2 separate regions of the Homo sapiens genome follow, and region 2 is linked to region 1. A link means that fine-mapping ties the variant in region 1 to the expression of a gene that starts in the linked region. Tissue or cell type: lung. Region 1 holds a variant in brackets; the other region holds the start of a gene. All regions are shown on one strand. Distances are from middle to middle.

Region 1 (5,373 bases):
TTCTTGTAAATTTGTTTGAGTTCATTATAGATTCTGGATATTAGCCCTTTGTCAGATGAGTAGATTGCAAAAATTTTCTCCCATTCTGTAAGTTGCCTGTTCACTCTGATGGTAGTTTCTTTTGCTGTGCAGCAGCTCTTTAGTTTAATTAGATCCCATTTGTCAATTTTGGCTTTTGTTGCAATTGCTTTTGGTGTTTTAGACATGAAGTCCTTGCCCGTGCCTATGTCCTGACTGGTATTGCCTAGGTTTTTTTCTAGGGTTTTAATGGTTTTAGGTCTAACATTTAAGTCTTTAATCCAACTTGAATTAATTTTTGTATAAGGTGTAAGGAAGGGATCCAGTTTCAGCTTTCTACATATGGCTAGCCAGTTTTCCCAGCACCATTTATTAAATAGGGAATCGTTTCCCCATTTCTTGTTTTTGTCAGGTTTGTCAAAGATCAGATTTTTAAGGTAGGAGGAGTTTATAATTTGATGGGACAGAGCCCCAGGCATTCACTCAGAGGGTCATGTTTTCAAGTGGGCAGGTTTCCTTTGCCTGAAAGGTCAGTACCCATGCAGTATACTTTTTCTTATGCCCTTCTTCTGTGACATCCTGGCTGCATGTCTCTTTTTGTTCTCTGCACTGCTGTCTGCTATCAGGTGGGTAAATTAGCTGAGGCTTGCTTGAATTCACAGAAGATGGAATGGTAAACTCTGTTTCCGCCATCTGAGGTTTACCAGCTCACTACTGGGAGTTGCTGGCTGCCAGCTCAGTTGTTAACTATGTAATACTTGGTTCCCCCCAGCCAGTATTTTCTGCATATGGCTCTCCAGATGGGAGCCCTGTGGAGAACAGGGGTGTTGGGAGGATCAGTCCTTTTGGCTGTTTGGTTATAACACACTTGTAATAGCACCGAAGCCTCTTGCATTGTTCTTTGGAGCAGAGCTTGATTCTCATTTTGCTTCTTTGCTGTGTGTGTCTCCCTTTCACAACAGAATCTTAGGAAAGCTTATATCTGAAAGGTGGCCAGCACTGGGGCCAGCACATGGGGGTTTTAGGGAACACAGGAGTGAGGAGTGAGCTTCAAGGAATTTGATGGGGAAACCTTTATCCTCATCACTGGAAGAGTAATTCAAGCTTAATTAAACAAGCTTAAACAATCTGTAGTTTAAGCTTTGTCTGTCCATTGCTGCCCTTGGAGTTAACTTTTAACCGTAGAGTCCTCAAAAGGCCAGAGAAGGTGCAAAGTATCCTTGTCAACTCCATGTCCCCCTCCCCAAATCCTGAAGCCTTTTCAGTAGATGTGTGTGGGGCTAGTCCATGCTGTCGGTTATCTCTAACTATGTGAACCGCCCCACCATAGCGTTCAATTTCCAGTTTTAATGTTTGTTTTTTGTTCATGTGAGCACTTAGTAACTATTAAGTCAATGTGGTCATAGAATAAAAGACAGTTGCTTTTAAGTTTCCCCCACCCCTGCTTTTGGATGCAGAATTGGAGACTCAGAGAGATCAAGTGACTTCTCTGAGGACAGTTTTGATTGTGGCAGACCCGGCTAGCACCCAGGCTCTTAGCTCCCGATGCCATGTTCCTACTGCTGTGGCATTTTGCACTTTTATGGACTTAAGTTCTAGCCTCTTTGTTTCATGAATCATTAAGAGTTTCAGGGAATACCTGGCCAACTAAGGGATGAGATCAGTCAGTAAAATGAAGGATCTAAATTTTGAATCCATGTTCCTGTTCATAATACACGTCTTTGCAGTCATTTCCCCTTGTCCAGCCTCTCTTGATGAGAGACTTTTTTAGCTTTTAGCAGGTACTGTAGCCAAAGCACCTTCTCTCTTCCATGTTCCTTCTCCAAATCATCTTTTTTCTTTTCATCAGCTGGACCATGTTTTCCTTTTCCCTTCCAAAGTCAGTCGTGCTCCACATTTTGACGGCTTTCCCTGGTTCTGTGAATTCCTTCCAAGTTGCTGCCATCTTTCTACTAATAAGCTGCCCAATACACTGTACCGGTCACCTCCCTGGAGCCTCTCACAGCCTCCTGGATGATCTTCAGCCTCTATTCTGGAAAAACCAAGGCTTACACACCACCCACTACAATGCTCTTTCAGCCCTGTGCTCTCCAGGTGGCCTTGGCTGTTACATCTTGTCGTTCATCACCCCTACCACCTTTGCAAGATTAAGGTGAGGTATATGAGCCCTTCGCTTTGGGCAAAAAATTTAAGAGGGTGCCACAAATTAAAAACCCCAGTAATCAAGACTTTTTTAAACCTACAGATTTTTTGCATTAATTTTGTTTTCATAGCATATCACATTACAGTATTATCTCTCTTGATTACTGAGTTTCTGAGCAGCTCCCTTGATTTTGGGCCCAAGATGAATGCCTGTCTTTCACACTCCATCTCTCCCATGTTCCTTTCCTCTTGGTTTTGCTCCTCCCCATCCTTTTCTGTAATTCCTCTAGTCTTCTGGCCCCTGCGGATTTATTCCTTGTGAATTAATGTTCTGTTTACATCTTCTTCCAGATTGTTAATAAAGATGTTAACACGTTCTCTAGGCCTCACTCCAACCTCGCCATAGCTGGCCCGCTATCTGGGGCCCTCTGCTCAAGAAAAGAAACTGCATTTTATCATAAGTTCTGTTGTTTACCGTCTCCTGGTGAGTATTTCCATCCCACCCAGGTTGCTGTTATCCTTGTCCAAGCGCCTTAATG[T/A]CTCATGCGCGAGGCTTGCTGAAGCTCCACGAGTGGCTTGAAAGATAAGCCCTTGTAAATAAAGCTTATGATCCTTGTTAATGTTGGGAGCTGATGGCATGCGTAGTCCAGCCAATTTGGATTAATTTTCCAAGGGAGATTTTGGTAGATGCTACGTCAACAGATTCTCTGAAATCCCACTCTCTCACCTTGCCTCCCTTTTCCTTGGCCACTCGCTCGTTTTTGCCAATTAAGAAAAGATATCACTTCCGTGGTGGGGTGTGATTTACTCTTTATAAACCCCGGTTGCTCTTCCGTGCTCAAAGTCCACTTGCTGCTTATAAACAGTGCTTTTCCTATTGGCCTTATCCTTTCAGTAGCAGCTTGAACTAGATTTACCTTTGTTTCTTTTTGTCAGAGGAAAAGATAGATTTTTATAACATAAATTTGGCAAAATGGAAGGACACTGTAGAATAAAACATCCTTTGCAAAAAGTACACACTTTTAGCAGTTCACATTTTTTAAAGAAGATAGTCGTTTTCTTGGTTCTCTGTTACCGAAGTAGCAAATGTCCATGAAACTAACTTGGGAAATAGAGAAAAACAGTAAATCACCCTTGTGCTAGCACCCCAAAATAAACACTGTTTACATCTTGGCACCTTTCCTTCTAGTCCTTGTTACATATTTATCATGCTGTAGATGCAATTTTGTGTCTTTACTTTCACATAGTATATCATAAATAGTCTCCATATTATTATGTAATCATTATAACCATCGTTTTTAAAGATTGCGTGCTTTTCAATCCAAGTAAATCTGTCTTTTTAAATTTAATCATTCCCCGTTTATTGGTCACTTAAGTTACAAATACTATTATCAGTAACAATGAGGTGAACATCTTTGTATGTATGTTTTCCTTAGTTAGGATTATCCTATACCTTAGATTCCTGGTGGTGGAATTACTATATTAAGCGTGAGGATAAACATGTTGCTAAAGTGTGTTAGAGAAGAGTTTGACCAATCAACAAAGCCTCTATCAGTGTATGAGACTATCTCTTCCCATTCCTCTTCTTGTACTGTGTAAAAATAGTTCTTATCAGTGCGTTCCTGTCACTCTAGGAGTTACTCAGGTAGACATATACATAATCACACTCTTCATAGTCCTCTGGTACATTTGTCATGCTAACAGCATTAATGATAGTAGCAATAATATCCCAACTGTTCTCTGACACACCTCTTTAACCAGCACTGTTCAATAGAAATATATTCCAGCCAAGGATGTAACGTTAAATTTTCTAGTAGACATGTTAATAATAAAAAGACATAGGTGAAATTGATTGTAATACTATATTTTATTTAGCCCAATATATCAGAGATGCTATCATGTCAGCCTGTGTCACTAGCCAAGTCTCAGGTGCTCAGTGGCCACATGTGGTTAGTGACCACTGTTGTGGATAGCACAGCTTTGAGCCATAAGCCTAAAGCACTACCAGACTCTCTTCTTTTGTTTAGAAAGGCTGTCAAATCCTTCTTTGCTTTTCAATCTTAGTTTTGGTTCTCCAAAAGTCAACTCTGAGATAAGGACTTGATGTGCAGGTAATTTATTTGGGAGGTGATTCCAGGATGCATTAGGGAGCAAGCGGGCAATATGAAAGGGAGATGATAAAGTCAAGAAAGAGCGTGACAGTGAGTGGATTGCTGCAGTGGGTAACTGGAGCTTAGTCCTGCTGGGGACCGTCTGAGAAACTGGGTGGCACCTGCCTCAAAGTTGCTCTCCACTGCAGATGCAGGGACTGGAACATGTATTTAGTGACTCCTGTCCTCCATTAATTAGTTATGGGTTGTTCCAGTGGTATTAATTACCCCACACTTCTGGGTTGTACCTGCTTAAGGCCAAGCTTGCTCTTACTGTGCTGGAGAAAGTCCTTAGGCAAAGAAAAAGGATGCAGGCTCTTGAGGTGGGTGTAGTTTGGGGGCTGAACTGCCTGCTGTCTTTGCCAGGAGACTCAGGTGGGCCAGGGATATGAGTGGGGCCTCAGCAGCACCTGCCTCTGGGCCTGTGTCATGGTGAAGTAGGGTCTTCTCCAGTGGGGCTTTTCCCAACCAGGTCATCCTTGGTTGATAGTCATCGTGGGTGATTCAGTCCATATTCTTTTATATAAGCCACAGAAACTGATTCTGGCTAACCAGGCAAAATGTAAATGATGGAGGGATGCTGGGGGCTCTCTGGATGTAATAAGGCCTGGAGGAGAGGGCTGGTCAGGATTGGGGATGGGAGAGAATAAGATTTTGTCCCATGCTGGAATAAACTGGCAGGACAGTTAGCATCTCGGAGAACAGCATGATTAGGATGCCCTGTGTTCCCTCCCTCTGTTTGTTCTGGGGAAGGAAATGGGGAGCAAAGTCACTTTGGCTTCCTTTTAGAGGTCACCACCTAAAATTATTTTCCCATTTATACTACACACAATAGAAGAAAGATAATTCCTTGATAGAAAATCAAATCGCTGTTAGGGAATGAATGCTGGGCTGCTAAAAATGGACAAATGACCACTGCAGAAGGAGATTGGGCTTTCTGGTGAAATCTGAGTAAAATTGGGCTGATTTCCTGGTTTTGATAATGTGTTATGGTTATGTAAGATGTTACCACTCAGATAAGCTGGGGCATAGGTACATGGGACCTTTCTGTACTATTTTTGCA
Region 2 (5,373 bases), 160 kb before region 1:
TGTTCTGATGGACATTCTGGTTTGGGAGGTCTGTGATGGGGCCTCAGATGCTGCACTTCTTGCAAGCTTCCAGGTGATATGGATGCTACTGGACAGAGGGCCACACTTTGGGTTTTGAGGATCTGGTCTTAACGTGGTCATTTTACAGATGGGAAAGCGGAGTCCCAGAAAGCTTGTCATTTCCCTGTGGTTAGAAATGAAATTCTGCTCTTCCCCACTCTAGTCTATCACCTGCTTTTTTTTTTTAAACCTTTAAGTTCAGGGGTACGTGTGTAGGATGTGCAGCTTTGTTATACAGGTAGACATGTGTCATGGGGTTTGTCGTACAGATTATTTCATCACCCAGGTATTAAGCCTGGTATCCATGAGTTATTTTTCCTGATCCTCTCCCTCCTCCCACCTTCTACCCTCTGGTAGACCCTCATGTGCATTGTCCCCTCTATGTGTCCATGCGTCACCTGCTTTTGAAAGGGCTTCCCTCTTTTTCAGCTGTCGCTTCCTGCTCAGGCCCAGAGTGTGAGCATAAACGTAGCACCCCATCTTAATCCCATTTTACTGTCAGGATGAAAGACTTCTTGCCCATCAGGGCCCCTTGCTCCACAATCTGCATTTTTACCAAATCCAGAGGGGTTTTTAAAGGTTTTTTGTTGTTGTTGTTTTTGTTGTTCTAACTTATGGATGTCTCTTCTTCTCTGCTTGACATGTTAAAAATCCTCTCTCTCTCTCTTTCTTTCTCTCTCTCTCTCTCTCTCAAAAAAGTGGGCTGGGCATCTTTTGGACACAACCATTTCAGTTCCAGGCTGGAGCACTGATGCTGGGCTGAATCCACTTGGCGTTCCCTGCCCAGGAGTGGTCTGAGAGAGGCTGTGTTTCTCTGCTGCCACCTGCCACCTCCCAAGAGAGGCCAAGTGTTAGGATCTGACTACACCTCAGTTTCCTGACTCTCAGATATTCTAAAGCCAATCCCAGAATGGCACTTGAAGTGACAGGGAAATTCCCAGTGGCCTAAGGACAGCCAGGATTGGCCTAGGGCCAGTAGCAAGTGGTTTGAGAGTCCAAGGAGGTCTTCACACTCTGTCCCCGCCTGCTGGTGGGAGGGCAAAATGCCAGTCTGGAGACAAGGCCATAATGGCGACGGGGGTAAAAATCTCCCTGGGGCCAAGGGAAGGTGGAACGTGACGGGAAGTCGGGAAAACTGCCTTGTATAGGCATGTTCTTTTCTTCCATTTTTTTCGTCCAAGTTTTTACTCCAAGCGACAGTGCCACCCGAAGGCGACCGGCCTGTTTGTGGTTGCGCCTGGGGCAGGCGGTGACACCGGCATACCCCTTCCCCCATCTTGCCTGCAAGTTGCATGACCTGCATCGGAATCCACAGGGGGGCGGGGGAGACTCCTTTCAGATACTGGATGCAGTTGAATTGAATTCAATGTATTTTGCTTCCTCGCCTGCCCTCCTCCAAGCTCGGGAAGGAGAACCCTGCTTTCTTCTGCGTGTGAATGCTGTAGTGTGTCTGCCTGCTCGGACTCCCCTAACCCTTTCTTCTCCTTTCCCACAGCGAATGCTCGTTTTTTTTTTTTTCAGCAAACAGCTCACACTTGGCATCTTTATGTTTTATTAAGAAAAAAATCCCTACCAGCGCAAAAGCGGGGCCCCCCCCACACACACTTCTTTCCCGGATGAGATCTGAGCTCTCGTCGAAAGCTGCACCTGCTTTGCGTCCCTACCAGGAAGGGGTGCTTGTGTGGGAGGGAAGGAGGAGGTTCTGCGCCCCCGAATCCGGAGAAAGCAGCCCGCCCGCCCCCTCACCCGGCAGCCAGCTCAGCTCACCCGAGAGCTGAGCCCGAGAAGCCGGCCTCTGACGGTGCTGGCGTGGCGCTTGCCAAAATATGCCCCTTGCATCTCAATTTCCCCCGGCCATTTCTCTTGCACGCACAGCTCGCCCGGGGCCACCTCGGCTCTCCAGCGCAGCCCTTTCGACCCCTGTTTCTTCCTTCCCCGATCCATGCCTGCTCAAGGCCGAATGCAAAACCCACCTCCAAGAAAGCGCAGCGGGCACGGGGGGCACCTAGCGTGCCATGTCCCGCAGTCCCCTCCCAGCCAAGACCAGAGCCCCAGACTCTAGATTACGGAAATGAGTGTCATTCAGACCAAGGACTGCGCGTCTGCGGTCCCGGTCCCCGGCTCTGGGTGCTTCTCTGGGGTGTCTGTGCGCTCCGGCACCCCCCGTCGCCGTCCGTGAGCCTGCGCCCCCCACCCACCCAGGCTTGGGAGCGCCCCCCACCCAAGGCTTGGGAGCACTCCCCAATCACCTCCGCCACGTTCATTTCACTTCCTACCGCGGTCCGGATTGCAGCAAAACCGGGTAGCGCGAGGGCCAAAAAGTGGAAAGGAGAGCGCCTTTCCGTGTCGTGCAGCCAGCTCGCCAACTCTCCCTCCCCAGCCCCGACCCTCGCAATCTCAAATGCAACTTTTTCCCTTCGGTCTCGGTTTCCCCCGGGCTGCGGCTAGCGGGCGCCGCGCTGCGAGGCGTGGAGCGGGCGGGCTGCCGCGAGGCTGCGGGTGGCGGTGCCGGCTACAGCCGCGAGCCGGCGAGTGGGTGGGTGGGTGGGTGGGGAGGAGGGAGAGGACAGGCGGGGAGAGAGACGGGTGTGGGGAGGGGAGGGAGGGGGAGATTCCGCTCTCCTGCCGCTCCCAGCCCGGGCGGGGGGCGGGGGGAGGAGGCCGCGACGAGGGAGGGGAGGAGGGAGGGAGGAAGGGAGGGAGGGAGCCGAGGAAGACGCTCCGATAACCCGTGCGTTTCGTAAGGCTCGGAGCACTTGTACATTTCTGCAGCCGCGCGGCGAGCCATTCGCGGCGGCTGCTGCAGCTCCTACTGCATCTTCCTTCTCTTCCTTTCCTCGGGCTCCGGGTGTGTGTATGTGTGAGAGTGAGTGTGTGTGTTTTGCAGGTGCGTGGTGTGTCCGTTTTAATTCTGCCCAGTAGGTGGGACTTGGTGACTTTAGCACCATTTTTTCCTTTTCCTTTTTTTTTTTTGCCTCCCCACCGTCTGTTGCAACCCTGCAAAGTCTCGGAGTCGGAGAGCGCGCCTCGCTTCCAGAGCCCCCGGACCCGGCGAGTCAGCGATCGCCGAGCCGGCCACCATGCCCGGCAGACCGCGCCACTAGGCGCTCCTCGCGGCTCCCACCCGGCGGCGGCGGCGGCGGCGGCGGCGTCCGCGATGGTTTCAGACGCTGAAGGATTTTGCATCTGATCGCTCGGCGTTTCAAAGGCAGAGGCCCCCCCTCCCCCTTCCCCCCTCCCTCGCCGTCTTTGTTTCCTTCCCCCCCTGCTCTCCCCACTCCCCCCACCCCACCCCCCTCTCCTCTCCTCCTCCTCTTTTTTAGAAGCAGCGATCGGAGATGGATGTCTCTCTTTGCCCAGCCAAGTGTAGTTTCTGGCGGATTTTCTTGCTGGGAAGCGTCTGGCTGGACTATGTGGGCTCCGTGCTGGCTTGCCCTGCAAATTGTGTCTGCAGCAAGACTGAGATCAATTGCCGGCGGCCGGACGATGGGAACCTCTTCCCCCTCCTGGAAGGGCAGGATTCAGGGAACAGCAATGGGAACGCCAGTATCAACATCACGGACATCTCAAGGAATATCACTTCCATGTAAGTCAGGCGGCCGCTCCCCAGCCTGCCTCCCCCGCGCTCTGCGTCTCCCTCCTGCCCACCCGCGGCCGGGAGCCGGCCCTCCGCCCGCCCCAGCTCGCCGCTGCCCGCCGCCCGCTGGGCGCGCGTCAGGCTCGCTCTGGCTCGGGAGATGCTCTCCGGCTGCGCATTCCAGGTGACTCCGGCCCTGGCGAGGCGCGATCCGGCTATGCGTGTGTGTGCCTCTCCCCGGAGAGGACCCCGGCCGCCGAGGGCACGCGGGGCCCAGCTACCGCCCGCCTCCCAACCAGTTGCTGGCTCGTTTCGATGGTGCAAATTGTTTTTTTTTGCTCCCCACTAAATAGCAACAGTTTGGCCACGCTCAAGTGGAATAAAGTAGACGAGGTTCGATTCTTTGGCAGAGGCGGCAGCGGCGGTGGCAGCGGCGGCAGCGCTTAGCCGGCAGGGAAGGTGACAGATAGGGACTGCTCGCGATCCAGCCGAGGTGTTTAACTATTTCCATTTGGAAACAGCAAAACATGCTGACAAGTAAACAAGTTGCGAGCTGGCTGCTCGCGGGGAGACTTTGGACGTGTGGAGGCCGTCATGGACGCCTACCTCTTCCCTTCCCCTCCTGCAGCCCGCCCTCTCCAGCCCCATTTTGGGCATTTCCGAGACACCCCTTTGCCACCCTCATCTGCATCTGGGCGCCTACAGATCCCTTCCCAGTTTGGGCTTTGATAACTGCTCGGAACTATTCCGAGTCAGGATGGCGCAGGGAGAGGAGAGGGCGTGTGTTTTGAGGAGAGGGGTTTCTTGTGTGATCGTGCGGATCGGTTCATTTGGAACATTCAACTCTGGCTGGCTTTTGCTTGGTTCTGCCCCCTCCGAGGGAGACCAGTGGTGGCCTGCTCTTTTCTCCTTGCTATTTTTCTTTGGTGGGGATGGCAGCAGACGCAAAGGAGAGGACAGATCGAGGGCTGGGGACTGGAGAGTCTGCTCCTCTTTTCTTTCGTTGACCTCGGCCAGGTGACCCCTTCCTAACCTACCACCCTGGAGAAGGGTGTGGACCATACTGGAATTGCTCAGAGGATAATTCTCACCTCTTTTCCCCCAAGGCTTCCAGCCCTTGGGGACCCTCAGCAATGGGTAGGCAGCTGAGAAGGGTTTGTGCTGAGGTCCTGGCCAAGGTCTGGAGGAAGGCATTTTGGGTGGCTCTTTACCCCTTCGACGGACTTAAGGGGGCCGGACCTGCCTTTGGTGCTGCTCTGGGAGCACCTCCCCTTGCTTCAGCCCAGGGCCATGGGGCTGCAAAGCCTGGAGGAATTGCAGTCCTGCTCTTTGGAAAGCCCACCAGCCCTCTCGGCTTAATGGAGCTTCTGCTTGCGCTCTCGCAGCTGACAGTTTGAGGGAAATGGATAGCCCAGGAGATGTCTCTGACTCCTGGCCCAGGAGACAAGCTTGACCCATATCTCAGCTCTGCTGTTCACCCCCTTACCCTCTTCAACCCGGCCAGAGATGACAAGATAAACAGCCAAGGGGCGGGGGTCAGCAGGGAGGGCAGGAGGAACAGGACAGACCCAACTGTGCCTCTCCCCCACTGCAGGCCACAGGCTTCCAGCATTCCCAAGGATGCAGGGAGAAGGGTTCAGAGTGAGACTGTTAGGGAAACTCAGACTTGGAAGTGCATTGCTGGGGCTGTATGTGTATGTGTGTAGGGGGTGGATGTGGGTAGTAGGGTGCTGGTG

Evidence for each region. PIP is the estimated chance that this variant, and not a neighbour inherited with it, causes the effect.
Region 2: NTRK3 starts here. The variant in region 1 is the best candidate, but not a certain one, in a credible set for the expression of NTRK3 in lung (TOPMed, PIP 0.57).

The regions. Positions count from the first base shown.
Region 1 is chr15:88,095,800-88,101,172 of GRCh38, reverse strand. All of the region lies in intron 13 of NTRK3 (neurotrophic receptor tyrosine kinase 3), which reads left to right. Among named protein-coding and RNA genes, the nearest start is that of MIR11181, 150 kb to the right of the region's middle. The variant T/A (reference allele first, on the strand shown) is at 2,700.
Region 2 is chr15:88,254,179-88,259,551 of GRCh38, reverse strand. NTRK3 (neurotrophic receptor tyrosine kinase 3) reads left to right here and starts at 2,813. Exons shown (of 20, transcript NM_001012338.3): 1 at 2,813-2,908; 2 at 3,066-3,268; 3 at 3,384-3,646. The coding sequence starts at 3,399. All of the region lies in intron 1 of NTRK3-AS1 (NTRK3 antisense RNA 1), which reads right to left. RefSeq lists enhancers at 960-1,254, 3,595-4,131, 4,132-4,669.